Homo sapiens: one gene and its partners. The protein of the gene in region 3 purifies or fractionates together with the protein of the main gene of each other region. This does not show direct contact. Each region holds a gene or a part of one and is shown on either strand. Other genes may lie near its edges.

Region 1 (4,563 bases), on a different chromosome or scaffold from region 3:
CCGCCCGCCTTGGCCTCCCAAAGTGCTGGGATTACAGGCGTGAGCCACCGTGCCCGGCCCAGCTGTTAATATTTCTAACTTAGATAACCATTTTAAGACTATAGAAGACTTTACATAAAACTTTATAGTTCCATTGAAATACAGAATAGTCATTTCACATGTTCATTCCAATTCCATTTAGCAAAAACTACTTTGTATCTACAAAGTGTCAGGAACTGTGCTAAGCCCTGGTGATGAATACAGTTCCTGAACTTTACATTGGATGAAATTGTATAAAGACAGTGTTTATTTTACTTTAAAGGCCCAGAACTCTTCTGGTTGATAGTAAAACTGGTTATTGGGTTTATCTTATTAATATAACAAAATGATAGTTTTAGTTTACCACTCAGAACCTGATAAAATCAGGAAGACAGAAGAAAAGCAATTAATGTAGCAGGAATTCTTAACCCTAGAATTATTTTTTCCTAAAAGCTAACTTGGCTTTAAAAAAAAAAAAAAAAAAAAAAAAAAAAAAGCTAACTTGGCTTTTAGGTTTTCCACAAGACCCAATGGGTTTTGTATCCTTTCAGTCCACAGGATTACTACCAGAAGGACGTGTTCACTGCACTGTAGTCAGTGGTGATTGCTGTGCCTTTTCACAGTTACTTAAGGATAGGTTTTGGGATTTTTTTTTTTAGCAGCTTTATTGAGATACAATTTCCATAATATGAAATTGACCTGTTTTAAGTATGTAATTCAATGAATTTTAGTATGTTTACAGAATTGTACAACCATCACCATATACTAATATTAGAACATTTAGAACACCTAAAAAGAAACCTTACACCTGTTCATAATCACCCCTTATTCCCACCTCCACCCCAGGCAACCATTTTTCAATTTGTCTTTTATAGACACTCCATAAATAGAATTATAAATTATGTGGTCCTTTGTCTAGTTTATTTTACTTAGTGTGATTTTGAGGTTCAACCATGTAACATGTTATTTATTCCTTTGTATCACTGAATAGTACTCCACTGGGTGGATATTCCACAAATACGGATATTCCCTTTTCTTATTTTTAATCCAAAGAGGTTTTTTGGCCCAGTGTGGTGGCTCACCCCTGTAATCCCAGCACTTTGGGAGGCCGAGGCAGGCGGATCACCTGAGGCCAAGAGTTCAAGACCAGCCTGGCCAACATGGTGAAACCCTGCCTCTACTAAAAATATAAAAATTAGAATGGGCATGGTGGCAAGCACCTATACTCCCAGCTACTCAGGAGGCTGAGGCAGGAGAATCACTTGAACCCAGAAGGAGGAGGTTGCAGTCAGCTGAAGTCGCACCACTGCACTCCAGCCTGGGTGACAGAGTAAGACTCTGTCTTTATGCAGTGGCTCATGCCTGTAATCCCAGCACTTTGGGAGGCTGAGGCGGGTGGATCACCTGAGGTCAGGAGTTCAAGACCAGCCTGGCCAACATGGTGAAATCCCGTCTCAACTAAAAATACAAAAATTAGCTGGGCGTGGTGGCAGGCATCTGTATCTCAGCTACTGGGGAGGATGAGGCAGGAGAATTGTTTGGGGGGTACGGGGGGAGATAGGTTTTTGATACAGGGAACCATCTCTTTACCAGCCCCCCCAAATAAGACCCTCTTATTAAGACTACCTAAATAGAAGTATCATGGGTTTGGCAGTAAAGCTAGTTAATTAGTAACTTACATTGTAAAAAATATTTTTGTGATTTAAAATAATAAGTTTTAATATCTTATATAGACTTGCTGTTAACTACTGAAAGATTTTTTTAAAATTTCATTTCTAGGTAAGACCATTGCAATTGGAAAAGTTCTGAAACTGGTTCCAGAGAAAGACTAAGCATTTTCTTGATGACCCTGCACAATACTGTGAGGAAAATTGACTGCAGAAGCCTACTTCACACCGCCTTCTCTTATTTTCTGCCCATTGATAAACCTCTCCCCATATTTTGCAAAGAGGAAATTCACAGCAAAAGTCCACATTATGTCAGCTTTCTCATATTGAGAGCTCTGCTATGCCACTGTTGAATTTTTCCCAAGATTCCTGTCCCTAGCCCTCACTTCAAACTCTGCTTCCTTGGACAGATTTGGCAATAGCTTTGTAAGTGATGTGGACATAATTGCCTACAATAATGAAAACCTACAGGAATTTTTTTATTTTTCATTTTCCCCTTAGGCATATTTAGTATTTTTCCCCCAGGCAGATCATTCTGAGTGTGCGAGTGTGTGTGCACATGTTACAAAGGCAACTACCATGTTAATAAAATATTCAATTTGAAATCCTTTTCGGTATTTGAATTGCTTTTGAATAATGTTTTTTATCTGGATGTAACATTGTTGCATTAGCTTTTTAACTTTCCCAAGTAATTGAATACATTTTATTACTTGGACTTTTATAAACTCTTTCCCTACCCACTATAAATGAGACATTCACAGCGTTCAAGTTTGTATTAAAGGAAAGGATTAGTTTGACCCCTTCTTTTGATGGTTAATGCATACATGCAGTTAAATCCCTTTATGCAAATGTGACACTGCTTTACTAGGTCTTTTAGTTATTTATTTATTTTTTTTTTTTTTGCCAATTTATATTGTAACATGATTTCTTGAACACAGTAAGTTGTTTTAAAATAAAAGAACAGCATACTGTAGTTTTTATAAGTAAAGCGTAATGAAATTGTACCCCTAGAGAAAATTCCATTAACTTGTTAAATTAGTGGAATTAACAACAAATAAAGCATGTTTGAGACCTGGCAAAAATTCCTCTGGTAGTATTTATAAATAGAGCTGCATGCCTCTAGTATGAAAACCGTATCAGTTGCAAGTGCCACTTCTACAAGTTACTCAGTTTACTCTTTGTATCAGTAACTTTAAAGGTTGGATGATCCTTGCTGGTTAAAGCTAAATCTCAACCTAGCAACTAAATGAAAATATTTAGAATCATCAGAATCTGAACAGACTAAAATTATCAGCGATAAGCAGAATCAAGCAGGGTATAAGTTTTATCTCAATTATTTGAAATTGACTGAGTTTTCTTAAGTGTAAAGCTGAAATTTGCTAACCATGTTTTTGATGAACCACAGTGCAGCATTGTGTGGGTTTTAGATTGAATGACTCTCTGCTATAATTATCATGACTTTGAAATTTTTCATGAGAATAAATGAGGAATGGAGGCAATTTGTGGGTTTATCCAAAGCCCCCTTGATGTTGAGTGTTGCCATTGATCAAAGATAGCCTCTTTTAGATTGTGATTTCTCTCTAAATAAGATACTTTGTATATTTAATGACAAGTCTCTTCCCTATAATTTTGCTCCTCAGAAAAGAAAAGCCTAGACAGACTGTATTTCCAGTCACAGAACATAAAACTTAATCTAATGGGTGTTTTGTTTTGTTTTGAGACAGAGGCTCACTCTGTCACCTAGGCTGGAGTGCAGTGGCTCGATCTCAGCTCACTGCAGCCTCCACCTCCCGGATTCAAGCAATTTCCTGCCTCAGCCTCTTGAGTAGCTGGGATTACAGGAGCCCTCCACGAGGCCCAGTTAATTTTTGTATCTTTAGTGGAGACGAGGTTTCCCCCTATTGGTCAGGCTGGTCTCAAACTTCTGACCTCAAGTGATCCACTCGCCTCAGCCTCTCAAAAGTGCTGGGATTACAGGCATGAGGCGCCGCACTTGGCCTAGTGTTTTCTTAACTGTGAAATTCCCATTCATTTCTTGAATGAGGCTACATCTTATGGACAGAGCAAAGTTATTGTCCTACAGATTCTTAAAACTATAATTATGGCTATTGCATGAAATTTAAATAGATTTTATTATGTCTGCAAATCTCTGGGCTTTTATTTTTCTGGAAAATATAGGAGCTTTAATCAAAACATAATAGTTCTTTTTGTAATTCCATGTTAATAAAAACAAATACTAGCAATTGCTTGAATTTTAATGAATATTTAAAAGTTCAAGAGCCACGGAAATCACTTCCAGAGATAAGAGTTCCCTTTCTAAATAGAACACATTTTTAAAAAATAAGTTATGTTTGCTACTAAAACATTTACACTGTTAGACTATTATGTGCATGTTGCCAAGACTCTTAAGTAACTTGGATATCAACTGTGAAGGGCCTACCTCTAAAAAGTAACAGGTCATACAAATACAAATGTAACTGTAAAAATTCCACTGGATTCTTGCATATTTGCAAGATTAGATTATTCAAAAGAAATTTCAGTGCTAAAATTAACCAGCAACATAAGTTCTATGGGCTTTGAAAATTGTTCTCATCTTTTTAAAGTTGATGCATTTTCAATCCTGCTTACACAGGCTGTTCATTTGGATAAGTAAATAAAATGTCTAAGGTGAACTTGGCATTATGTGGAGATGTTGGACCGTTATAGAGCAATACAAATTCCTATGCTGTCATTCTGTTTTCTGCAAATGCAAACGTGCTTATATGGTCAACAGTGCAAAAATAGGGTAGTTGGCTGCATATTTAGGGTATTACCTAAGCATTTGTTCTCTAACGTTGCTCTACTAGAATGATTTTTTTCTTGCATCTTTTCACATTAA
Region 2 (4,563 bases), on a different chromosome or scaffold from region 3:
GAGATCATCATTCTTGCCCTAACCTGCTGAGAGATTGCTGGGAAGATTAGCGTCAGCTAACTTACATCAAAGTTCTTGGAAACATAAAACACTAGGCAAATACAAAGTTCGTCATTAAGGCTAGCCCTTGAAGAAATCAGTTGGTCTATTCAAAGAAAGTGGCCTGTGACATTTTAGGCAGGGGTTGCAGCCTTAACTTGCTAAGGGTCAATGTGGGTGAACCAGTGACCAGCCTGACTCACCTAGGCAGGAGATGGGAGAGTGTTGAGTTGGGTGGGTGGGTGAGTGGGTAGCTGTTGCTGGGGGTGTTAGTGTATCCTGAGTTACGGGGGCCTGGCAGAAGAAAGACGACATGTAGCATCTGATTAGTTGACCCCTGTTCCCAGCTGACTTCCCCGGCTCACACAAGGTCTCATCCTGGGTTGTCGCTTTCTCCCTCTGCATACAGGCTCAAGAATGGGACATGGACGCCCGGCGGCCAATGCCTTTTCAGTTCCCACCCTTTCCAGATAGGGCACCTGTCTTCCCCGACCGCATGATGCGAGAGCCCCAGTTGCCCACAGCAGAGATCTCACTCTGGACTGTGGTGGCTGCCATTCAGGCTGTGGAGAGGAAGGTGGATGCCCAGGCCAGCCAGCTGCTGAACCTGGAGGGGCGCACGGGGACAGCCGAGAAGAAGCTGGCCGACTGTGAAAAGACGGCCGTGGAATTTGGGAACCACATGGAGAGCAAGTGGGCCGTGCTGGGGACCCTGCTGCAGGAGTACGGGCTGCTGCAGAGGCGGCTGGAGAACTTGGAGAACTTGCTGCGCAACAGGAACTTCTGGGTCCTGCGGCTGCCCCCGGGCAGCAAGGGGGAGGCCCCCAAGGTATGTGGTGGTCCCTGGGGCAGGGATAGAGGTGAGGAACAGCACAGGTGCATAAAATTCTTGATTTCATTTTGTCAGCCCTTCTCATAAACTTCTCTGGCTCCCCGTTATCCAATTTCAGTGTCTTCTTAAAGCCTGTCTCCACTGAAACAACCTGGTCTTGGACGTTCTACCCCAGCAAGGCTCACTCCATTCATTCCCCACAGTCTGCATTTCTGTCTGGGAGCCTTTGCTCTCGCTGTTCCTAGACCCCTCTGAGTTGTCTGGTTGTCTGCAAGTTCTTGCAGCTCTTCACTCCTTGGTTTTCCCACTTGACACCTACCAGCGATCATGTGTCATTGGCTGTCTTGGTATATGCTCACCGGAATGTGGCTGGAGTCGCACCTCAAACCAGGCTGCCTGGAGTTGCTTTCAAGTCGTAGTCACTTATCTCAGGGGGGCCCTTCTTAAAGTTCAGAATGCACACTCCGTATCTTACTCCGTTCCCTCTCCTGCTTTCCTCCCGGATCCTCAATGCTGCTTTTCAGTTCACTGAGAGAACGGAGTCACCCAGAAGAGGCGTCCACATGCAGCCAGCTTGTTCTTCCATCTGCTGCTCGGTGGCCACAGACTCTGCTTTCCCTTGTTCCTGTGGCTTGATGTCCCCTGCCCACCCCAGGAGGTCACCCCCAGCGTCTCTCTCCTTTCTCCTCTGAGTCATCAGCTCTCCCCCCTCTGCTGGGCTATTCCCACCAGCATGTGACTGTTCTGTCCTGCTGTCCGTCTTTAACAGAAAACCTCCCTGGGCCCTGCATCTACCTGCATTGGTGCCTCATTTCTCCACTCCTCTTTAGAGCAGAACCCCTTGAAAGAGTTGTCTATACTTGTTGTCTCCAATTCTTTCTTCCCCATTTTCTCTCCTTCCCTCCCTTTTCCCCTTCTCTTTATTATAGAATATTCAAATAAAAATAGACAGAATAGTATAATGGGTCCCCATGTATCCAAATTCCAGCTGCATTAGCTGCTAACTCTTGGCCAGTCTTGTTTCACCTAAATCCCTGCCCACTTCCCCACTCCCATTTTATTTTGAAGCAAACCCCAGACATTAGTCATTTCCTTTGCAAATATGTCAGTATTAGCTCAAAAGGTAAAGACTCTTTTTTTTTTAAGTGATAATCTCAATGTTATTACCACCACCACCATAGTAAAAGCTTCAGCCTAGATCACTGTCTAGCCAGTGATTAGATTTTCAGTTGTTTCAATTTTTAAAAACATTTTTTTAGTTTGAATTAGGATTCAAGTAATGTCCACACATTATGTTTGAGATGTCTCTTAAGTCTTTTTTAATCTGCGGGCATCTCTTCCATCTATTATTTTTCCTTTCAGTTTATCTGGAAGGAATTGGGCCACCTGTCCTGTTTTGCATCTCGCTGTCTGGATTCCACTGATTACGTCCCCTGTGGTCTCATTTAACATGTTCCTCTATTCTCAGTATTCCAGTTGATTGGTAACTGGATCTTTCTCTCTGGAACGCACTCTGATCAGGCCTTTGCTCACTAATGATGTCCGTGGTGTTACAGCCAGTGGTTGCTTCTCAGTCTTCATCCTCCCTGTCCTGTCAGCAGCATTGTGTGTAGGTGACCACTCTCTCCGTGAAACCCCTTGCCGTGGCTTCTGGGACACCTCTCTCTGCTGAGTCTTTTCCTACCTCACCAGCTGCTGTGTCTCATTGTTTGCCAATTTTGCCTCCTTTGGCCAGCTTTCTAATGCATGGAGTGGGCCAGACCTCTGTCTTGGCCTTTTGCTCTTTATTTACTCTCCTCCCTCATGACTGCATCCCGTCTCACAGTCTTTATTATTTATTTATTTATTTATTTTTTTTGAGACAGAGTCCCGCTCTGTTGCCCAGACTGGAGTGCAGTGACGTGATCTTGGCTCACTGCAACCTCTGCCTCCAGGGTTCAAGTGATTCTCCTGCCTCAGCTGCCCTAGTAGGTGGGATTACAGGCATCTGCCACCATGCCCACCTAATTTTTTGTATTTTTAGGGGAGACGGGGTTTCACCATGTTGGCCAGGCTGGTCTCGAACTCCTGACCTCAGGTGATCCACCTGCCTGGGCCTCCCAAAGTGCTGAGGTTACAGGCGTGAGCCACCACGCCCAGCTAGTCTCACATTATTAAAAGCAATCTGTATGCTCTCACCTCCCAAATAGATGCTTTCTCTCCCCTGCTCCCTTTCTATATGTTGCCCAGCTTTCTTTCTGGAATGCCAGATTCACATTCCTACCTATTAATTCATTTGGATGTCAGTAAATCTTAGATTTAACATGTCCAAAGTGAACTGCGGATCGCCTGCCTGAGACCTGTTCTACCTGAAGTTGTCCTCATCTCCGTTGATGACGGATGGTTCCATCCTTTCAAGTGCTCAGGCCAAAGCCTTGGAGTCATACTTGTCTCCTCTCTTTCTCACACCCTACTTCCAATCTATTAGTAAATACCCTGATTTTTCTTCAGAATATATCCACAACCTGGCCACTCCTCACCACCTCCACTCCCATCGCCATCGTCTGGTCCCAGGCACCATGGTCTTTCATCTGATTTTTGCCATGGCCTCCTGGTGGGTCTCATTGTCTTCATCCTTGTCCCCCCACCCATACAGTCTATCTCAACACAGCAGCCAGAGTGATCCTTTGAAAATGTGAAGCAGTCACATCACACCTCTGCTTAAACCTCCCAAATGGCTGGGCACGGTGGCTCACGCCCATAATCCCAGCACTTTGGAAGGCCGGGCAGGTGGGTCATGTGAGATCAGGAGTTCAAGACCAGCCTGGCCAACATGGTGAAACCCCATCTCTACTAAAAATACAAAAATTAGCTGGGCATGGTGGCAGGCACCTGTAATCCCAGCTACTCAGGAGGCTGAGGCAGGAGAATTGCTTGAACCTGGGAGGCAGAGGCTGCAGTGAGCTGAGATCTTACCACTGCACTCCAGCCTGGGTGACAGAGTGAGAATCTGTCTTAAAAAAAACCCAAAAAACACCTCCCAAATGGCTTCCCATCTGATTAGAATAAAAGCCCATGTCTGTTTATGGCCCACGCTCTCTTCCCCTGCCTCTCTGACCTCCTCTGCATCCACTCCCTCCTGCTCACTCCCATCTGTGCTGTTCTGCCAGCACACCACGTGCGCCCCCAGCTCAGGGACTCTCCACTGAGAAGCTCCTGCCCTGAATATCTGCATGGCCGTCCTCGCCACCTCTTCCATCAGGGTCTGCTGAGGTGCCACTTCATCAGCATGCCCTTCTACAACCATCCTATATGAAAGAACCACGTCCCCCAAGCACACTCGTCTCCCTGCCCTTACTCGAATTTTCTACAAAGCACTTTTGCCATTGACATCTTAAATATTTAAGATATGCTTCTTTTTTTTTTTTTTTTTTTTGAGACAGAGTCTTGCCCAGGCTGGAGGGCAGTGGTACAATCTCGGCTCACTGCAACTTCTGCCTCCCAGGTTCAAGCGATTCTCCTGCCTCAGCCTCCCGAGTAGCTGGAATAACAGGCATGTGCCACCATGCCCGGCTAATTTTTCTTTTTTTTTTTTGAGACGGAGTCTTGCTCTATTGCCCAAGCTGGAGTGCAGTGGTGCGAACTCGGCTCACTGTAAGCTCTGCCTCCCGGGTTCACACCATTCTCCGGCCTCAGCCTCCCAAGTAGCTGGG
Region 3 (4,563 bases):
ACTCGACGCGGGCGCGGGCGGGGGTCCCAGGGACCGGGAACTTTTGCGCGTCGCCTGAGCGTGGCCCGTGTCTCCCTAGAGGGTGGCCCCGCGCCCCCGTCACGTCGGAACATAAGGACCTGAATTGGCCTCCAGACGGCCCCTCCCATGTGGCTCCCCAGGGTGGGGCCCAGGCCTTGGGTGCTGCGGAGACCTCCCTCCGTAAGGTTGAGAAAGTCTGGTCTCCGGATAAGGGACCGTTAGGGCCTCTGTTCAGATCCCTGCCTCAACCAAAGCAGGCTGCCAGCTGGTGGTAGTGGGTTCCTGAATGTGCTTTTAGCTTTGGCTGTGTAGGGAGCCAGGGACTTCTCCAGTCACAGAGAAGGGCGTTTACTCCCGCATTTTCATGGGGTCCTCAGTGGGATCCGTGACCCACAGAGATTCAGAAGGGCCTTTCTGGGATACAACAGGGTCTGGCCAAGCCTGAGGGGTAGGGACGGGGCTACTCCCGCAGCGCTAGTTGCAGATGGTCACGGGAGCACTGGCCACCCTGAGCTCCCACCAAGCTTTCCCAGGAGGAGGACACCCTGGGGCCACCTTTCATCTGGCTGCAGAGGACACAGGAGTGTCAGGCTGGATTTGGGGAGCGTGTGCACCCTGGGCAGCCCCCTGAGGCTCTCCTTCCACCCGCCCTCCCGCCCACAGTGCCTCCTGATGACTAGATTCTGGAGTCAGAATTTGGGTGACCACACCCTGGTCGGTTTTGCTCACGTGCTTCGGGTCGGTTGGATTCAGTTCCTCCATGTGGGGCCGTGGGATGTCACCACCCTTTGCCACTGTCCTTGCAGGCCGGGCGCCCAGGCGTGTGGACCCGAGCCCAGCCTTGCGTCTTTCCTCCCAGTTGGTACCAGGGGCCTCTTGCCTCCACTCATGCAGAGTGGACCAGCCGCCTCTGAAGCAGCCCCGGGGAGAGGAGTGCCAGGCACACAGACTCAGGAAGCTGGGGGTGTCAGGGCACCAGGAGCCTCTCAAGCGGTCCTGTTGGCCGTCTTTCTGAAGGGCAGCTGGGGTTGCATCATTTCCCCAAGTGGATCCTGCCAACTTTCTGGGGCTTCTGGATGAGAGCCCTCTCCCCACCCCACCCACCCCTCCCCGCATTGTGGCATCAGTGCTGCTGCTTCCAGGGAGCCTTCCTGGCCATCCAAGCCTCCTCTCCAGGTTCCTGCCCTGCTGTAGTCCCCAGGCCAGTGCTTGGCAGGTGCTCAGGGAATGTATCCACCAACCAAGGTTTGGGGTGGCTGTCTCTGCCTGACCACTTTCCCCAGGCCCCTGGCGGGTACCTGAGCTGTGCTCTCAGGGCCTCAGGAACCTCCTTCCATATTCAGGGCCTGTGCCTGGGGAGGCTTCAGGGTGTAGCAGCTGTGCCCATCCCAGGCTGACCCACCCAGCTTGCCTGGTAGCCCAGCCTCTGGGCTAGTGTGCCGTGGGGCAGGGGATGTGCTGTAGCCTGGTGCAGAGTCCCCAACCCCAGAAGGGGGCCATGGAAGCTGACACCCCAAGTGGCCGCCCCCCTGCTCTGTCTTGCTTCGGACACTGTGGCCGGGTCCAGGATCCTGGCATCCTGGGAGGTCTCTGGCTTTGTGGGCAGCCTGCCTGGCCCGCACAGTCTGCCTGTCCTGAGGGTGAGACACAGGTCAAGCCCACAGACCCCCTTGCTCCCCTGCTGGGGCCTCCAGGCTCACAGACCACCCCACCCTACCCTGTCCTTGCCCAAGCAAATGAGAGGCAGGGGCTTCCCGGGCTGCTGCTGTCCCGCCCTCTGTGGGGCAGGAGGAGGTGCCCACAGAGGCTGGGTGGTGATAGCCAGGAGATGGGCTGGCATCTGCATTACCCAAGCTCTGCTGCCCATGGTGGCCTTTCTGGGGGTGGGTGCTGGTCCCTGCCCCCTGCCCCACCCCTGATGTCTGCTCCAGAGACAAAGGTGGGGAGGGTGCTGAAGAGGAAGTGTTTGCCCAGGGAGAGGCTGCGGCTCCTCCTGAAACATCAGCCCTGTGGGTCCTGTTTGCAGAATCTCCGGCCTGTGAAACTGTGAGGGGATTCGGCCAAGACGTCCTCTTCCCTCTGCCTCCCACCCAGGCCACTCTTCACCTCCACCATGAGCCTGGACATCCAGAGCCTGGACATCCAGTGTGAGGAGCTGAGCGACGCTAGATGGGCCGAGCTCCTCCCTCTGCTCCAGCAGTGCCAAGTGGTCAGGTACGCTTGCTCTCGGGGTGGCCTTGGGGTGCTGGTGGGGCAGGCTGGCGGGTGGCGGCTCCCTCTGAAGGGTGCATTGCTCTGGAACGCCTTGTTTGTGGACATGAAGTATGAATTCTGTGCAGCTACCACGTGCATGAGATGTGATTCTTGTGTTTCTTTTTGACAATTTAGGAATGTAAAACCCATTCCAGGCTCATGCAGCATGGGCTGAGGTGGGCGGGCCGAGGTGGGCGGCCACTGGCCAGTGGGTCTCTGGCTCCGGTGTCTCAGCTCCTCTCCCTCCCTTGGAGACACGAGGGCAGGACACAGCTTGGGTCCCCTCCGTGAGCCTCCATGGGGCGCTGCTTGTCCCTGCCAAGCTGGGGGCTGGGAGTCCTCGGCCCTCGAGGTCCTCACAAACCCAGCAGCTTCACAAGCAGGACACGAGTGCCTGGGTGGGCCGCATCTTTTCTCTTTTTACCTGGTGATTTCAAGTAGTGTCAGGTTTGCGGAGGAGTTACGAGGACCGGACGGGGCTCCCTGGTGAGGTGGTCCTGTGTACCTGCGGACGCTAGCTCTGGCCCAGCACCTCCAGGCAGGGTCTGCTTTTCCGCCCTGCCCTTTTCGTCTTCCTCACTGGTCCAGGATTGCGTGGCCCTCAGCCCTCTGTCTCCTTAGCCCTCTCCCGTCTGTGACTGTCCCCTCGTCTCTCTGGGTTCTTGGTGGTCTGAGGGTCTGGCCAGGCTCCTGCAGGACGTCCTCTGTTGGGGCTTGTCTGGTGGTTTCTTGTGGTTGAAGTCCTACAGTTTTGGCAGGAATGCAGGGAGATGCCGTGGGGCCTGCCAGGAGCGTCCTGTCACAGGCGCCGTCTGCCACCCTCTCCACTGTGACGCCACTGCCTTTCCTCCTGTGACTGATCAGTGCCTTCGAGAGATACTTTAAATTCTTTTTATTTTTAGAGACAGGGCATTGCTCTGTCACCCAGGCTGGAGTGGCTCCCTCATGGCTTATGCGGCCTCAACCTCCTGGGCTCAAGTGATCCTCCTGCCTCAGCCTCCCGAGTAGCTGGGATTATGGGCATGCGCCACCACGCCCGGCTACTTTTGTATTTTTAGTAAAGACGGGGTTTCTCCATGTTGGTCAGGTTGGTCTTGAACTCCCGACCTCAGGTGATCTGCCTGCCTCGGCCTCCCAAAGTGCTGGGATTACAGGCGTGAGCCACCGCGCCTGGCCACGTGCGAGCATCTTAAACAAAACTTTCATGGAACAGTTCCTCCTTTTTGTTTCATTTCTGAAATGTCTTGTGTGACTTGCCTTGCTGTCTTCTGGGCCCACTGATAGGTTGTAACCTGCACGTGGGGTGGTGGTGGAGGCTGAGGCCAGTGCTGTCTGCGTGGTCCACATGACCCTGGGGTCTGCTCACAGGCTGGACGACTGTGGCCTCACGGAAGCACGGTGCAAGGACATCAGCTCTGCACTTCGAGTCAACCCTGCACTGGCAGAGCTCAACCTGCGCAGCAACGAGCTGGGCGATGTCGGCGTGCATTGCGTGCTCCAGGGCCTGCAGACCCCCTCCTGCAAGATCCAGAAGCTGAGGTGAGGCGGGGCCTGGCACTGCCTCTGGCCTGGTGCAGTCTGCTTTGGTAGCCCGGCAGCAGGGGACAGAGCCGCCAGGGGCGCGTGGGCAGCTGCAGGTGGACAGGCAGTGGCAGCAGACATTTCCAACATCAGCCAGAGGCACACAGGCCTGGCGGTCTCACAGCGGGGGGGACAGGGCCCTTCCTGCCTTATCCCAGCCCCCGCACCCAAGATCTGGCCCTGCCCGCCATCCCTAGCCTTCCAGCATCACCACAGACCCCCACTGAAAGGTGTGTCTGCAGACAAGGTTTCCCTGGGTCGAGCCACATGCGTGCCCTCCTTCACTCGGCCTGGAGACCCCAGACCCCAGAGCCCCGTCCAGGGAAGGAGCAGGTATAGACCTGCCGCCTGAAGAGTGCTGCTCCGGGCTCTGGGCTCTGGCAGGCGAAGGGCGTGGCAGCTTGGCTCAGGGGAGCCCTGCTGACAGCCAGGTATGCTCCAGCCTCCAGAACTGCTGCCTGACGGGGGCCGGCTGCGGGGTCCTGTCCAGCACACTACGCACCCTGCCCACCCTGCAGGAGCTGCACCTCAGCGACAACCTCTTGGGGGATGCGGGCCTGCAGCTGCTCTGCGAAGGACTCCTGGACCCCCAGTGCCGCCTGGAAAAGCTGCAGTGAGTTTGTGTCCTGCCCCAGGGCCCATGCTGGCCGCTGCCTGTCCCCCAGCCAGCCCCCTACATAGAACATCGCCTGCCAGGAGCCGTGAGGA
Region 4 (4,238 bases), on a different chromosome or scaffold from region 3:
AGCATTGCTTTTGCTGCATTTCATAAGTTTTGGCTTGTTGTATTTCCTTTTCATTTGTCTCAGTATTTTCTGATGTCTCTTATGTTGTTGTTTGTTTTTTTTGACTCATCATTTATTTACTTTCCACATATTTGTGAATTTTCTAGTTTACCTTCAGTTATTGGTACCTAGTTTCATTCTATTATGATCAGAAAAGCTACTTTGTGATTTTAATCTTTACTAAGTCATTAACACTTGTGGCCTAACATATGGTTTATCTTGGAGACTATTCCATGCGCACTGCAAAAAAATGTATATTCTATTGTTGTTGGGAAGGTGTTCTATATACGTGTGTCAGGTCCAGTTGGCTTATCGTATTGTTCAAGTGTCCTGTTTCCTTATCTTCCACCTGGTTGTTCCACCCATTATTGAAAGTGGGGTATTGACGTCTAAAACTATTACTGTAGAACCATTTCTCCCTTCAATTCTGTTAATATTTGCTCTTTGTATCTTGGGGGTCTGATGATAAATGCATATATAATTGTTATATTTCTGTGAATTTACCCTTTTCTCAGTGTAGTGTCCTTTGTCTCTTGTAACAGTTTTTGACTGAAAGACTATTTTGTCTGATATTAGTGTAAGCCACCTCAGCTCTCTTTGCTAGTACTTACACGGAATATCTTTTCCATCCTTTCACTTTCAAGATGTTTGTCTTTAGATCTCAAGTGGGTCTCCTGTAGACAGCATATAGTTGGATCATGTTTTTTATCCATTCTGCCAATCTCTTCCTTTTGGCTGGAGAATTTAATCTCTTTAATGACTGATAAGGAAAGACTGACTTTTGCCACTTTTCTATTTAATTTTCTCTCTGCCTTAGAGTTTTGTCTCTCATTTCCTCCTTACTGTCTTCCTTTGTTTTTAGTTGATTTTTTTTGTAGTGACACATTTTAGTTCCTAATTAATTTTGATACGAGGTACTAGGAAGGATACTGAATATGGCTTCTAAGGGCTGGTCCTAACCAAACTACACAGAGAAAAATCTGGCTATGCTCAGTTTAGGTTCACCTATGTTCTCCATCTCTTTCCCTGCACCACCTCTTTGGGGACAGGAGACCAAGAAGCTTGCAGAAGTTCTTATCTTCAGTGATTTCGGTGAGTTACTGTGTTACGAGGACTAGGTCCTCACCCAGAGCATGATGGACATAGACTACTTCTCCACAGAGGGGAGACCAGCTTAAATTATGGTCAACAACACTCTTCTTTTTCACTCTTCATTGATTCTGTACCTGTCAGAGGTGGTGTCTCTTGTCACTTGAGTGTGTGCTGCTTCTTTCCACCAGCAGTTACTTTGAGATTGTGGTTCCTTCTTTTGAGTCTGTTGCTTATATAATGGATGGGTCTTGCCAGCCCAGTCCCCCTTTAGAAATTACCAAATCTGTTCAGATTTTAGTTACAAATCTGTTCAGATTTTAGTTACTCATCCTGCACATACCAGCTGTCCGTACCCTTTCAATGAAAAAGCAAGCTGTGGCTTGGATCCTTGTGGAGTGTCAGAGGCAGTACTCTGAGCTTACTCAGGGATACATTTTAGTCATGAAATACATACCTTAGTTCCCACAAATTGGAGCCTTCACTGCCAGCTTCTATATTTACCTTGTGGATTTGGGGAGAGCAGTTTTTAGTAACATCTCTAGGACACACAGGTTTGTAAAAGTCCTTCTCTCTGTGCTTCTCCTAGGTGCATCATTTCTGGCATGGCTTCAGGAAGCATTGTGCTATTTTACAACGACTTTAACCGGTGGCATCATGAATACCAAACCCGCTACTGATGGTGACAGCTGTACATCAACTCTGCCCCTAGGATGAGCAGAAGTACCTGGAGCATCATTCTCTTCTACCACATCTGAATGTAACTTAAATTTGCTCAAAGAAGCAAAATATTTTTTAAAGTTATTAATAATTGCTATTTTTGTAGTCTTTGCTTGACTTTTTTGGGGGGGATTAGCAAAGCAGAAAACTGGCTGCTGGGTTCTGTAGTTTTAAAAAATCTATATTTTTAGTCATAATGAGAAGTCTATTTTCACCAATTATGGAAACATACAGTGGAGCAAGTAAACCACTTATTCCAGCTATAATATTATGAAGAACATTTCCCATGCATCTACAAGCTTGAGAAATAGGATTTTCACAGTGGGGAAGTGGGTTACAATATTGGAATAGGAAAATTTGATGCTGTAATTTGGGTCCTGTATTTTTCCAAACAACTGTGCTTCTTCAGCACTAATATTTCTGGGATTTAAATAGTAATGTTTAAATTATGGTAAATGTAATTTAAAACATCTCAATTAAGTCTGTCTATCAATATTGTTCTTCAAGCATGTTTTAGACCTAGAAAAGTATGGTTTGGGGGAGGCTATTTTATTGTGTGGTTAGCACAAGGAATCTAATTTATAGCAAGTGTGAAATAGTTACCATTTTTTCCTGATCTGTCATCTTCATAGCACAACAAAACGAAATGATGGAAATGCTCTTGAGCTCACAACATTTGTTTTTCTTTTAAAGTAAATGCAAGTACCAAAGCTCACTACTGCGGTTTGCCTGTGCCTGGACAATGAGGCGGAGCCACTGTTGTTTTGTTGGGGCACCCCCTTCCCTCCCCGGGTTTGCAAATAGAGGCTACCGGGTGCTGTATTCAGCAACACCTGTTTTACTATTTGTTATTAAACTATCATCTCCACCTTCCTTTTGATTAGCAATTTGTACTAAGAAACGAAACAATGTTATTTGGTGGTGTATAATTCTACTTTTCTAGTAGATTACTGTGTGGAATTCTGTGAAAAATATTTGAGAAAAGGCCTGTATTGCATAAATAAATTCTTTGTATGTTGTGAACTTTGATCTCTATTTCTCTTGCAACAGACTTCAAGTGGTCCCTCTTTTTTTCCTACACACTCAGCTCTTCTCTAAAAGCAAGGATTTGGAATGAACAATTCAGTTTGACAGAAAAAGCTGAATAAAATGGCATCTGTAATTGAATTGTTGGAAATGCCTTTTTTGCTCCTAAATTTTAAACATCATTAATAAAATAATGATTCACAAAGAAAGAAAATGTCAAACTCTGATTCAGTCCTAGTTTTTGATCAATAACCAATGTGAGAGATCCTCCTGACTGAAAACAGGAAAATGAGCTTTCTTTGGCCAGATCTCTCCTCTTTCTTACTGAGACTCACACAAATGACCTAGACCTGAATCTTACAAATGCCTAGCAAGGAACTTTATGTACCACTTCATCTGAGATCCATCATTAAGAAAATAAATAGACGACGGTGAAATGTGGGGGAGGGAAAGTACATTTTAGAATCAAAGAAATACCCAAGTTGCTGATAAATTAATTAACTGATGAACATCTTCACTGTTTGTTTGTTAATGTCCTCATTAACTTGTGAATATTACTCTTTGAAAACTTCTTAAGTGAACAATGGTAAAAGAAAATACCAATACCTAAGTCGTGCCACACAAATGATACTTCAACCACCCTATGCTTAACAAGCCTAAAGCAAAGCTCCTCTTGAAACCTAAAAGGAAAAAAAAATCAGTATCTCCACTACCTTTATTGTTTTAAAAACTTACGACTAACGAAAATTAATTGAAACATAAGTTGGCCGGGTGCATTGGCTCACGCCTGTAATCCCAGCACTTTAGGAGGCCGAGGCAGGCGGATCACTTGAGGTCAGGAGTTCGAGACAAGCCTGGCTAACATGGGGAAACCCTGTCCCTACTAAAAATACAAAAAGTAGCCAGGCTTGGTGGTAGGCGCCTGTTAATCCCAGCTACTCAGGAGGCAGAGGCAGGAGAATTGCTTGAGCCTGGGAGGCGGAGGTTGCAGTGAACTCAGATTGTGCCACTGCACTCCAGCCTAGGCGACAGAGTGAGACTGCATCTCAAAAAATAATAATAATAATAATTAAAATTTAAAAAATAAATATTAAAAGAAACAATACTTCATGAAACAAATAAGGCTGGCATCAACACATGGGCTTCTTAATGACAGAATCTGTTCAGTAATAACATTTACAGTTTATTCAATATTTACTTATTCAATTTTAACTAACTCCTTAAAAAGGCTATTACTTTACATAAATGTAAGCCAGCTAAGAAAAAGCCAGCTAAGTGAAAGTAGAGGTGTTTTGGGGCTGGAAATAAGGGAACCACAACAGAGGGAGCAGTGCGTCTGCACAGTGAGTAGATGCGGCTGGATG
Region 5 (3,500 bases), on a different chromosome or scaffold from region 3:
GAGTGTCCTTAGTGTGAAAATAAAGTCACTGCCTCATTCATCATTTTGTTAAATTTGTGATACCCAAGTTAGTATTATAAAACCTTTGTTTGTCTTAATCCTTTCTTTAAAGTATTACTATTTCAGAATTCTTTGATATACCCAAATTCTCCTTAACCTGTTGCGGACATTGACCAAATGGTGATTGATGGGTGTAAGAAATACATGCGAAAAACGTGTGGCGATGTCTTAGACAATCTTAAAGGAGACTGCTATCAGGTAATTGTTTTCTGGATAATGTAGTTTTAAGTGAACTAATAATATAAGTTATTGATCAGAATTGTGCCTTATTAAAACAGCTTTTAGTATAGTTGGTTGAGAAGATAAATACATCATCTGTCTCTTCATATGAGTTATATGTATATTTGTATTTAGGGTGCACACGTACCAATGATGGGAAAGCACCAACTCCAGATTCTCTGAATTAAATAAAATTAATTCTTTTTTTTTTTATTATACTTTCAGTTCTACGGTACATGTGCAGAATGTACAGGTTTGTTACATAGGTATACACGTGCCATGGTGGTTTGCTGCACCTATGAACCCATCATCTAGGTTTTAAGCCCTGCATGCGTTAGGTATTTCTCCTAATGCTATCCTTCCCCTAGCCCCCTACCCCCGATCGGCCCCGGTGTGTGATGTTCCCCTCCCTGTGTCCATGTGTTCTCATTGTTCAGCTTACACTTAGGAGTGAGAACATGCGGTGTTTGGTTTTCTGTTCTTGTGTTAGTTTGCTGAGAATGATGGTTTCCAGCTTCATCCATGTCCTTGCAGAGGACATGAACTCATTCTTTTTTATGGCTGCATAGTATTCCATGGCATATATGTGCCACATTTTCTTTATCCAGCCTATCCTTAATGGGCATTTGGGTTGGTTCCAAGTCTTTGCTATTGTGAATAGTGCCGCAATAAATATACGTGTGCATGTGTCTTTATAGTAGAATGACTTATAATCCTTTGTATGTATACCCAGTAATGTGATCGCTGGGTCAAATGGTATTTCTAGTCCTAGATCCTTGAGGAATCGCTACGCTGTCTTCTACAATGGTTGAACTAATTTACACTCCCACCAACAGTATAAAAGTGTTCCTATTTCTCCTCATCCTCTCCAGCATCTGTTGCTTCCTGACTTTTTAATGATGGCCATTCTAACTCCAGCTTGGGCTGCAGAGCGAGAATGTCTCAAAAAAAAAAAAAAATCTTAATAAAAAAAAAAACCTTAATAATAATAATAAAAAAGAAACCTTAGTAGTAAAAATCAAGTAGTACACAAAGCTAAAGATTGCTTTTACATATGTACAAAATTTCCAAGTAAAATAATAAGCTAAATCTGGCAAATTAAGTCTATATTATGCTCAAGTAGGATTTAGTTAGAAGTGTAAAGATTTCAATTTTAAGAAATCTGTCAACTTAATTCGTTAGGTGAATAATTTAAAGGAGGAAAATAACAGATGACAAAGAATTTGAGAATATTTAGCAGTCATTTTAAATAAAAACTAATGCAGTATAGCCATGTAAAATTAGCCAGGTGTGGCGGCGTGTGCCTGTAATTCCAGCTACATGGAAGGCTGAGGCAGGAGAATCGCTTGAACCCGGAAGGTGGAGGTTGCAGTGAGCTGAGATTGCACCACTGCACTCCAGCCTGGGCAACAGAGGGAGACTGTCTCCAAAAAAAAAAAAAAATATATATATATATATATATATATTTCCATCTAACAAATCTGTACATGTACTTCCTGAATCTAAAATAAAAGTTAAATTATAAATTACTTGAATAAAATAAAATTGCAATAGAGATGAAACTACCTGAACGTTAATAGAAACTTAGGTTGTGGTAAATAGAAAAATAGAAAATATAATAGATAGCAAAAGCCATTTCCACTGAAAATAGGAAGAAGATGAGGATGCCTATTATCTTTTTCAACATTATTTTTTGAGGTAGCTGAGATAGTAAAGTAGATGAAAACAGTATAAATCTAATTATTTGTAGATGATGTGAATACTAGAAAATCCAGGAAACTTACGTAGGAAATTATTTGAATTAATGAGAATTTGATAAAGTGATTGGATAAAGCCAGCCTAGATTTTTTCTCTATACTAAATGCTAACTCATTTAAATAGGATTTCCTTCCCACCCATTTCCTTTCAAAGTAATCAAGTGTTAAATTCCTAGGAATATATTTAACAAGAATGGTATTGTGAGACTGGTATGAATTATGTTAAGATGTTATTGAAAGACATCAAAGTCTGAATATGTGGAGAGGCATGCTGTATTTCTTGTATTGAAAGAACAGGCCGGGCTTGGTGGCTCACCTGTAATCCCAGCACTTTGGGAGGCCGAGGTGGGTGGATCACTTGAAGTCAGGAGTTGGAGAACAGCCTGGTCAACATGGTGAAATCCTGTCTCTACTAAAAATACAAAAATTAGCCCGACGTGGTGGTGGGTGCTTATAATCCAGCTACTCTGGAGGCTGAGGCAGGAGAATTGCTTGAACCCGGGAGGTGGAGGTTGCAGTGAGCCAAGATTGCACCACTGCACTCCAGCCTGGGTGGCAGAGCAAGACTCCGTCTCAAAAAAAAAAAGGAACAATGTCTATTCTTCCCAATTTATTATGAGTAATCCCAAGGAGGGGGGAGGGGTTTAAAAGTAGACCAACTGATTTTGAAGTTGATTTGTAAAAATAAGTATCTAAGAATACCCAAGAAAACTTGAAAAAAGAATCATAGTGTGAAGCGAAATATGTCCTATTTGTTGTTAATGTACTATAAGGCACGATAATCAAATAGGAAGTATGAAAGGAATACACAAGGACCTAGGAATGTCAAAGGAACTTGAACAGGTCTGAGTATGTATTCCTACACACTGCTAATATGGTCTAAGATACATTTCAGTTGACTTGGGAAAAGCGTTAGTTGAGTTAGTGTGTGATGCCGGTATAAGAAGTTATCCATCTGCATGAGAACCAAGTTAGCTAACAATAGAAATAGGAATTTTGGTGACTTAGGCTCTAAATGTAAAAACTAATACATTTAAGACAATTTAGAGTACTTAACCTTGGAGTTCAGAAATCTCTTAAAGATAGGACACTCAAACTGTTAATGGTATTATAATGTTGTCATTACCAAGCCAAAAGTCAGACTAGAAGAAAGACTAGTAACAAGCATGACAGGGAATTGATCCCTTGAATAATGCAGAGTCCCTACAACTTAGAAATGAAGTTAGCTAAATTTAAAAAGGTATAGAGGATATTTACTGGTACTTCTCAGAATAAGTCAAATAACCTGTAAAAAGTACCACAAGACAGGCCGGGCGCGGTGGCTCACACCTGTAATCCCAGCACTTTGGGAGGCTGAGGTGGGCGGATCACGAGGTCAGGAGATCGAGACCATCCTGGCTAACATAGTGAAACCCCGTCTCCACTAAAAAAATACAAAAAAAAATTAGCTGGGCGTGGTGGCGG
Region 6 (4,563 bases), on a different chromosome or scaffold from region 3:
TGCCGGGATTACAGGCGTGAGCCACCATGCCCAGCCTCTGTGGCATATTCTTCAGCAAAGATATGAACCAAATCACAGGTGGATGAACACAACAACTTGGGTGCACCTCACCAGCATAATGCTGACTGAAAGAAGCCAGACACAAAAGTATTCTTACTGTCTGATAGTTGCTAGGCAAAGTCAACTAGAGTATTTTTTCTTTTATTCTTTGTTTTCATATATGTGTATATATATATATGTATATTTATTTGTTTATTTATTTATTTAATAAAGAGACTTGGTCTCACTATATTGCCCAGGATGGTCTCTAACTCCTGGCCTCAAGCATCCTTCTACTTCAACCTCCCAAAGGGTTAGGATTACAGGCATGAGCCACCCCCTGGACAATTAGAGTATTAAGTGTCAGAATAGTATTACAATTGGGAGGCATGCCATGGAAAAGACTATGTCTGCAATGCAGGGTATGGAAATGCTTTATTTGTTTGTTTGTTTGTTTGTTTTGAGATGGAGTCTTGCTCTGTCACCCAGGCTGGAGTGCAGTGGTGCAATCTCGGCTCACTGCAAACTCTGCCACCTGGGTTCATGCTATTCTGTTTCCTCAGCCTCCCCAGCTGCTGGGACTACAGGCACACGCCGCCATGCCCAGCTAATTTTTTTGTAGCTTTAGTAGAGACGGGGTTTCACTGTGTTAGCCAGGATGGTCTCGATCTCCTAACCTCGTGATCCACCCGCCTCGGCCTCCCAAAGTGCTGGGATTACAGGTGTCAGCCACCGTGCCTGGCCTACTTTTTTGTTTTTTAAGATGGAGTCGCACTCTGTCAGCCAGGCTGGAGTGCAGTGGCATGGTGTCGGCTCACCGCAATCTCCACCTCCCAGGTTCAAGTGATTCCCCCACCTCGGCCTCCCGAGTAGCTAGGATTACAGGCATGCACCACCACACCTGGCTGGTTTTTTTGGATTTTTAGTAGAGACAGGGTTTCACCCTGTTGGCCAGGCTGGTCTCAAACTCCTGACCTCAAGTGATTCGCCTACCTTGGCCTCCCAAAGTGCTGGGATTACAGGCATGAGCCACCATGCCTAGCCTGAAATACTTTTTCTTTGATGTATCCAACTGACATGCCATTATTCTTTTCCAAAGGTCATTTTTTCCAGGACACTTTCTGTCTTCATGACAGGAACATCGAGAAGCCAAGGCTAGTGGCTGGGTTACTGATGGATTACTGATGGATTCTTCTCAGGCAAGTGGAAAGCAGACCTAACTTCAAAATGTTATGCTTGTAGCCATCATCGGTAGCCTTACCTTGTTATCGTGTATTCAAGCATCTTAAAGAAATGATGGTCCTGCTCAGGAAATAACTCCCCAGGTGAATTTCTCTAGGAACCAAGCCATCTCAGGTTGTACAGAGATTGCAATGGAAGTGTATTGCGGGATCTGGCCAGCAGCCCACAGTGCAACGGGGCTCTCTCTTTGTTCCCAGGCAGATTGGCAGGTTGAGAAATAATAGACACACACAAGATAGTGAAGGCTGGGTCCAGGGGGGTCACCGCCTTCTGGTCCCACAGTGCCAACAATGCACTGGATATACCAGCAGTTATTATTAAGCTTAGTGAGGGCGGGGGTAGGTTAGTGAGGGATTTAGGGTCATTTGATTATGAGGTGAGATGGTCACATGGGGATGAAGTAATTCTTTAACATAACATTTGTATGTAGAAGTACAGTACATTTGTATGTAGAAGTACAGTATACAGAGACAAGAATTTAAAATATAGTGTGTGTGTCAGTAATTTCTAACAGAGCCTTAAAACAGAAACACAATCTTTCCATAACCTATGATTAGCAAGATATTAATCAGCAGTAACAATTGCCACAAATGCTGGTTAGAAACAATCCATGGAAACAGGATGTGAAGCTAGACAACTGGTTAGACCAGAAGTTCTCAGAAGGGAGTATGCCTTAACTTTAAAGAGGCCTACAAGAGCCGTGACAAGATGAGGGCGTTTATCCATATGGACAGGCACCCCCCATGCATCTGTTTATAGGCTCTCCACAAGGGTCGCATTCCATTCCCAGAGCTATGAACATCTGCTTTTCTGGGATAGGAATCTTGGTGATGTGAAACCTCCCTGACTGCACGTCCATTCATAGGCTCTGTGCAGGGGGAAGCACATCACACGCTGTTGGCTCATTCTGGCAGTCCAACCTGGCATTGTCTTTACACAATCCTGCATGCAATTTTGTATTTACAGTAATCAGGAGCATTTCATCTTTTATTCTGTAGCAATAGTTTCAGTGGGTCTCCCTACAGAAATGATTATTTTATCTCAATGTTTACTAATTCTTTCTGATCCTCAATCATGCTTGTTGGCTCATTGTTTTGCTGAGTGTTATGACAGATTGTAAGAAAGGGATGGAGATGTCTAATCTGAAGGAATTTGTGTGTCACTGTGGAGATAATTCATTTGTTATTAGATTTTACATAGTGCTGCAACATATTCAGTGCAGACTGCACCTATAAATAGAGGAGGACTAAGGCCAGAAGAGCCCATTGTAAAGCTGTAGGAAGATCAGTTTAGTCATGTTTCAGTGATGCTGATAAGTCCATGGGATTGGATGCCATTGCAAGACAATATCTATATAGAGGAGAAGAGGCCTGAGGCCTGGGAGTACTGCAGGCTTCTAGTCTTCCTTAGTCCTTCATGCATTTTTCTCAGAACATCAAAGGAGATGGTACTTAGCTGAAGCTGGCATGTATTTAATGGTTTAGCACTTAGTGACCTTTGAGGATGTGGCTGTGGACTTTACCCAGGAGGAGTGGACTTTGTTGGATCAAGCCCAGAGAGATCTCTACAGAGATGTGATGTTGGAGAACTACAAGAATCTCATTATACTAGGTAAAACTGGCATCATTTCTTCACTGACCCCTTTAGGAAATCAATGTTTCTTAAATGTTTGCTGTCAAATGAGGGTACTGTAATAAGCAAGACAGGCATGGACCTTGGCCAGTGGACATTCCTTTTTTTTTTTTTTTGAGACACAGTCTGGCTCTATTGCCCAGGCTGGAGTGCAGTGGCATGGTCTCTGCTTACTGCAAAGCCCCCCCTCCTGGATTCAAGTGATTCTCCTGCCTCAGCCTCCCAGGTAGCTGGGATTACAGGTGTGCACCACCATGGCCATCTAATTTTTGTATTTTTAGTGGAGACAGGGTTTCACCATGTTGGCCAGGCTGGTCTCAAACTCTGACCTCAGGTGATCCACCTGCTTTGGCCTCCCAAAGTGCTAGGATTACAGGCGTGAGCCACCATGCATGGCCTGGGCATTACTTTATAGAACAAGCTTGTAAACTTTCTTAAAGCATTATGAGATTTATGCACAGACCAGTTTTTTTGTTTATTTGTTGTAGCTCATCAGCGATCGTTAGTGTTAGTGTATTTTATATGTGGTCCAAGGCCATTCTTCTTCTTCCAGTGTGGCCCACGGAAGCCAAAAGATTGGACACCCCTGGTGTAGAGGATTCCCCATGAAAATAAAGATTTAAGTAAATGAGTTTATTTAATGTATGGATTAAAAACTTTAAGACTTTAAATGTGTATGAAGTTGGACTTGGTTTTCCAGGCTCAAGCAATTCTTCTGCCTCAACCTTCTGAGTAGCTGGGACCACAGACCTGTGCCAGCATGCCCTGCTAATTTTTGTATTTTTAGTAGAGAGGAAGTTTCACCACGTTGGCCAGGCTGGTCTTGAACTCCTAACCTCAAGTGATCTCCCTGCCTTGGCTTCCCAAAGTGCTGAGGTATGAGGCATGAGCCATTATACCTGGGCAACATTTTTGTTATTTTAAAAATAGTTTTAGTGCATGTATTGGAAATGTTATATGATTAGTTTGCTATTTGTAAAGTTACACTTGACCATCTTTAGAATCCCCGAAGGCAAAAGTATTGGTTCCCCATTGAAGGACATGGTGTTATGTCTTGCATGGGCCTCTTCTTTTGTGCATTTTTCCCTCCAGCAGGGTCTGAATTATTCAAACGTAGTCTCATGTCTGGATTGGAACAAATGGAAGAGCTGAGGACAGGAGTGACAGGAGTTCTGCAGGGTGAGTTCATAAGCAGATGTGGTATTATGGCACTGCTGTGCCACCCTAGGAGACATGCAGTACATTGGAAATGTTACTTTGCGAACTTCTCAGGGTATACTCTTCTTCCTGAGAAGGCTGAGGCCATTTGGTTTCCTTAGATACTTTCAACTCCCCTCATCTTTAAATTTCCATTGATCTTCTCAACCTCTTTTCTGTTCTCAGAAAGGTTTGTCTGCCTTATTTGAAAATTCCATCTTATGCATGTAGGTCCTTTGCCAACACCTTCTTATATTGCTTTCTTGATTCTCCCATCTTTTTGCTTACTACCAGCCTCAGTTTTCTGCATATTATTAGTTGGATAATAAGTAATACAGGTTTTTTTTTTTTTTGAGATGGAGTCTTGCACTGTCGCCCTGGCTGGTGTGCAGTGACATGATCTTGGCTTGCTGCAACCTCCACCTCCTGGGTTCAAGCAATTCTCCTGCCTCA
Region 7 (4,563 bases), on a different chromosome or scaffold from region 3:
TTATCTTCTATCCTAACTTTTTTCTTTTTGAGACGGAGTTTCACTCTTCTTGCCCAGGCTGGAGTGCAGTGGCGCGATCTTGGCTCACTGCAGCCTCCGCCTCCCAGGTTCAAGTGATTCTCCTGCCTCAGCCTCCCAAGTAGCTGAGATTACAGGCATGCGCCACCACGTCCGGCTAATTTTTTATTTTTAGAAGAGACGGGGTTTCTCCATGGTGGTCAGGCTGGTCTCGAACTCCTGACCTCAAGTGATCCACCCACCTCGGCCTCCCAAAGTGCTGGGATTACAGGTGTGAGCCACTGCACCCAGCCTATTCTAACTTCAGAGGTTATGTACATTTTAAGGGTTTGGGTGTATATTACTAAACATCTCTCTATTTATGCTTGCTTTAATGGCAAATTTCAGAAGGCTTGTTATCAACTTTTGCCAGGCTGGGTATTGCCACTTAAAACAAAAACAAAAATACATACAAACCAAAAACCTGCCAATTTGATTGATGAAAAATGATGTCTCATTGATGTTTTTATTTGCTTTATTTACTTTATTTTATTTTATTTTTTTGATACAGTCTCACTCTGTTGCCCAGGCTGGAGTGCAGTGGCGCGATCTCGGCTCACTGCAAGCTTCACCTCACGGGTTCACGCCATTCTCCTGCCTCAGCTTCCCAAGTAGCTGGGACTACAGGCGCCTGCCACCACACCCAGCTAATTTTTTTCTTTTTTTTGTATTTTTAGTAGAGACGGGGTTTCACCATGTTAGCCAGGATGGTCTCAATCTCCTGACCTCATGATCCACCCACCTCGGCCTCCTGAAGTGCTGGGATTACAGGCATGAGCCACCGTACCCGACCTATTTTTATTTTTGAGATAGAGTCTTGCTCTGTTGCCGAGGCTGAAGTGCAGTGGCGTGATCTCAGCTCACTGCAACCTCTGCCCCCTGGGCTCAAGTGATTCTCCCTCCTCAGCCTGAGTAGCTGAGACTACAGGCACATGCCACCATGCTGGTCTAATTTTTGTGTTATATTATAGAGATGGGCTTTCACCATGTTATCCAGGCTGGTCTTGAACTCCTGTGCTCAGGTAATCCGCCCGCCTCAGCCTCCCAAAGTGCTGGGATTACAGGCGTGAGCCACCGTGCCTGGCCTCAGTGATGTTTTTAACTGTGCATTTTTTTTAATGAGAATTTGAAAATAGGCTTATAACATCATTTTTGTCAAAGGATGGTTTTGATTATATTGAAATTTGGTTTTAAACATTAATAGCACTAAAATCTTTTTATTAATAAGAACTTATGAAATCCATTCCTACTTTTTTCCTTGACATTTTAGTTGTATCATGGATTTAGAACCCAATGAGTAATGTTTAAAGTTAATGTATGGTCATTTTTGTTTTATCTTCTTTTCTGTCACCTGTTTTCCTGCTCTCTGATTCCTGTGCATGCAAAGCAGAAGGCCTCAGGTGATTCAGCTCGACCAGTTCTTCTACAAGTTGCAGAGTCGGCCTACAGGTTTGGTCTGGGTTCTGTTGCTGGAGGTTAGTCATGGATGAGAGAAAAATTTTCACTTTTGTTATTCCTATTCTCTTTTCTCTGATTTTCCATCTTGAAATGTTAAAGGACAAAGTCTTCTCTAGTCTTTCCCAATGCCAGTTATCAGTTTCTACCTGTGAGGTAGGGCAAGAGTAAAGGGAACTCTTTTCCCATACCTGCATGTGATCAGGGACTTACAAGTGGCATTTTCCTCTATCTACAGATCAGGCCTTCCAAAGACAGGTTACTAATGAGGTTGGGCTGTAGCAATGTGCCTTAATTTAAAATATCTATGACATCCTTTTATTAGGGGATACTTGAATGAAAACCCTCAATTGTTTATTAAAGATATAAGAAAGGTAGTACTGTTTTAAAATCTGTATTTAAAATTCAAAACACATTTCTTTTCTCAGTCTTGTCCTTGACTTTAACTACCTTCTTCTTTCTTCTGACCTATCTTACTTTCTTCTGAGATAATGATATTGTTTAATTTTAGCTGTTGGAGCCACTGCTGTGTATCCTATCGATCTTGTAAAAACTCGAATGCAGAACCAACGATCAACTGGCTCTTTTGTGGGAGAACTCATGTATAAAAACAGCTTTGACTGTTTTAAGAAAGTGCTACGCTATGAAGGCTTCTTTGGACTGTATAGAGGTTAGTGCCACATGCTCAATACCTGTTAGGTGAAATAACACTCAAAGGTTTGGTTTCTCATCTTAGTGCCTGACATGAATTAGCAAGACTGCGTTAAAATGGAAATACAGCAGATTTTCAATTATCCATGCTAATGGGAGTAGGCTGGAGGCATCTAGGGCTTGGCTAATCAAAACAGCCCATAATCTGAAAATTATTTATAGTGCTCTGTTGTATGTTTTATTTCTTAAAATAATAAATTATTTTTATAAGCATCTTCCGTGAATTTTTGAAAGGCTCACATTGTTTGCATCCTTGAAGTACTCTATTCTCCAGCTAACAGGGAAAGGTATTCTGCCACCAGGACAAAGCCTACTCAGGATTCATGATTTTCCTGGAATACACCACAAAAAAGATAACGAAGGGTTCAGTAGAGCTCTCTTTTGCTGCTTCATCCTGAATTAAAGTTGCCCCTTTTCTTCATCTGACTCTCAACCCAATGGAGTTGATTCACACACCCCTCTAGCCAAGGTTTCCCCCCACTGAGACAGCCTGAAACAGGTAATCCTTCTTTCTCCACCTTTTCCTTTAACCATCTAAGGTTCATTAAGCAATGGAAGTAGTAGCAGAGAGTATGTCATCACTGATGGAAAGGATCCCACAGACCCTGACTGCTTTTCCACTGGCATTGGCCGAAGGAGACTTCTCAACTGTTCTTTCGGGGATTGCCTTCTACGAGAAGGAAACAGTGTTTCTGCATCAGTTAAAATACAGTATCACAAGGCAGTTCAAACTCAGCTGCTTTATAATTTGGCAGCGGCAAAGCTGGCAGAGTTTTCCCTCCTCTCCCCTACTAATGCTCTCTCTAGATGAAGAAAACAGTATTTAGTACTCTGCTGAGGTGGACGGTGAAACTGGCAGACATGGAAACCTGTGCCTCTGGGCCTCTTCTGCCATCTGCTGACTCTAGTCTTCAAATTAATTACCCCAGTTAAAAAAAACAAAAAGGATAAACCTTTCTTGAAACCTCTCACCTTAGAAGCCAGAAAGTCTCAAACTCCAGAGAAGTTCCATTTTGCAGGTCCTATTGTGTAGGTAGGTAGCCCCCATCAAAGGCCTTTTGATCTTTGCTCTGCCCTCTTTTCCTTATCCCCTGCCTCTTCTTACAATTTGGAAGGTCTTTGACCTCAGGTGATTGATGATGACCCTTTCAGGGTCACTGCCTTCCATTTGAAATGCTTTTCTTCCCTGATGGCAACAACTTTGCAAATGAAATGGCTTCCAAGTAGTACAAGGTTAATGTCACAGTTCCTATTCTGCAGTGAGTCAGGCAAAATTGGCCGCCTTACCTGTCCATATGGGTGGTTTTTGGAAGGGAAATCTCGAGTCTCAAGTCTGGGCAGACATCTGAGCATTGCTTCATAAACTACTTTTTGGGCTTTTCTTGGTATTAGATTAAATGTCAAGGATGCCTTTAGAATTGTAAGAATGCTTCCCAACACTGCTCAGTGTCTTTAATTTGCTTAAGTTGATTTTTTATTTTGAGTCCTTTTTTCTCGATCTTTGACCATACCTGGCAGGTCTGATTTTTGGTTACGTCTATATTTCCCTTTTGCAACCTGTACTGTTGGCAACTAGAAGTGTGCCTGAGTACTGAGTGCTGAGCTAATGTGGGCTATGCAAAGAGGCTTCCACTCTTGCCGTTTCAGTTCTTTTATCTGTAAGATGAGAGTGACTGCTTTTAACTTCTCAGAGGAGTAGTAAGTCAATATATTAGGTACAGACAGAGGCTCACTGTAAACACCCAAGTGGCAGCTCTTCACCCTTTTCCTGGTTTAGAAATGGCCATTTATCTTTGGGTGCCCCAACCTTAAGGGCAAGAGACAGAGCTGTCTGTCAGGATGATGAGTAGAGTGTGAATATAAGATTAGTTCTAGGAGTCACCTGTGTTCATTTCTTCCTGATATCTTTTCTGGTAAACCATTTTAAAACAAAAAATTTACTGTAAAATTTTTGTTTAGTCCCATTCTGTAATTTGGATCATCTTGAGAGCAAAATGATGACTGACAGTTCAGGTTAAAATAATAATGATACATAACTTTGCCATGAAAATGACTTGTTCCTATTCTTGATTGGTCAGGGATCAGTTCTCTTTAGTTTCTTGTACATCATCAATAATTAATAATTGTATATAACTGCATATTTGTAAGTGCTTATTGGGTAAGAGAGATCAGATGAAAATGTAGGTAACTCATGGTTATTGTTGTTAATTTAAAAAATTACAATATAAGTAAAAAAGACCTGACATATTTCTGAGACTCAGTATTATCACCTTTATGTACAAAGTCACATTATGAAATACCTATATGTGATTCTTTGTACATTTCTCATAAAATGTAACT

What was found.
Region 1: the proteins of RNH1 (region 3) and GSPT1 fractionate together in Homo sapiens (co-fractionation; one large-scale study listed by BioGRID). This does not show direct contact.
Region 2: the proteins of RNH1 (region 3) and ZNF282 purify together in Homo sapiens (affinity purification with mass spectrometry; one large-scale study listed by BioGRID and IntAct). This does not show direct contact.
Region 4: the proteins of RNH1 (region 3) and LRBA fractionate together in Homo sapiens (co-fractionation; one large-scale study listed by BioGRID). This does not show direct contact.
Region 5: the proteins of RNH1 (region 3) and SMS fractionate together in Homo sapiens (co-fractionation; one large-scale study listed by BioGRID). This does not show direct contact.
Region 6: the proteins of RNH1 (region 3) and ZNF846 purify together in Homo sapiens (co-immunoprecipitation; one large-scale study listed by IntAct). This does not show direct contact.
Region 7: the proteins of RNH1 (region 3) and SLC25A13 purify together in Homo sapiens (co-immunoprecipitation; one study listed by IntAct). This does not show direct contact.

The regions. Positions count from the first base shown.
Region 1 is NC_000016.10:11,870,406-11,874,968, reverse strand, and holds part of GSPT1 (eukaryotic peptide chain release factor GTP-binding subunit ERF3A), read left to right. Parts: intron 1-1,797; coding exon 1,798-1,850; 3' UTR 1,851-4,563. UniProt on the Homo sapiens protein: GTPase component of the eRF1-eRF3-GTP ternary complex, a ternary complex that mediates translation termination in response to the termination codons UAA, UAG and UGA.
Region 2 is NC_000007.14:149,197,885-149,202,447, forward strand, and holds part of ZNF282 (zinc finger protein 282), read left to right. Parts: intron 1-448; coding exon 449-868; intron 869-4,563.
Region 3 is NC_000011.10:499,734-504,296, reverse strand, and holds part of RNH1 (ribonuclease inhibitor), read left to right. Parts: intron 1-2,047; 5' UTR 2,048-2,134; coding exon 2,135-2,235; intron 2,236-3,642; coding exon 3,643-3,813; intron 3,814-4,297; coding exon 4,298-4,468; intron 4,469-4,563. UniProt on the Homo sapiens protein: Ribonuclease inhibitor which inhibits RNASE1, RNASE2 and angiogenin (ANG). May play a role in redox homeostasis. Required to inhibit the cytotoxic tRNA ribonuclease activity of ANG in the cytoplasm in absence of stress.
Region 4 is NC_000004.12:150,263,292-150,267,529, reverse strand, and holds the end of LRBA (lipopolysaccharide-responsive and beige-like anchor protein), read left to right. Parts: intron 1-1,717; coding exon 1,718-1,808; 3' UTR 1,809-3,095; downstream 3,096-4,238. UniProt on the Homo sapiens protein: Involved in coupling signal transduction and vesicle trafficking to enable polarized secretion and/or membrane deposition of immune effector molecules. Involved in phagophore growth during mitophagy by regulating ATG9A trafficking to mitochondria.
Region 5 is NC_000023.11:21,978,709-21,982,208, forward strand, and holds part of SMS (spermine synthase), read left to right. Parts: intron 1-168; coding exon 169-258; intron 259-3,500. UniProt on the Homo sapiens protein: Catalyzes the production of spermine from spermidine and decarboxylated S-adenosylmethionine (dcSAM).
Region 6 is NC_000019.10:9,761,611-9,766,173, reverse strand, and holds part of ZNF846 (zinc finger protein 846), read left to right. Parts: intron 1-1,138; 5' UTR 1,139-1,223; coding exon 1,224-1,238; exon of another isoform or gene 1,239-1,364; intron 1,365-2,712; exon of another isoform or gene 2,713-2,765; coding exon 2,766-2,892; intron 2,893-4,005; coding exon 4,006-4,092; intron 4,093-4,563. UniProt on the Homo sapiens protein: May be involved in transcriptional regulation.
Region 7 is NC_000007.14:96,181,896-96,186,458, reverse strand, and holds part of SLC25A13 (electrogenic aspartate/glutamate antiporter SLC25A13, mitochondrial), read left to right. Parts: intron 1-1,444; coding exon of another isoform or gene 1,445-1,447; coding exon 1,448-1,532; intron 1,533-2,023; coding exon 2,024-2,182; intron 2,183-4,563. UniProt on the Homo sapiens protein: Mitochondrial electrogenic aspartate/glutamate antiporter that favors efflux of aspartate and entry of glutamate and proton within the mitochondria as part of the malate-aspartate shuttle.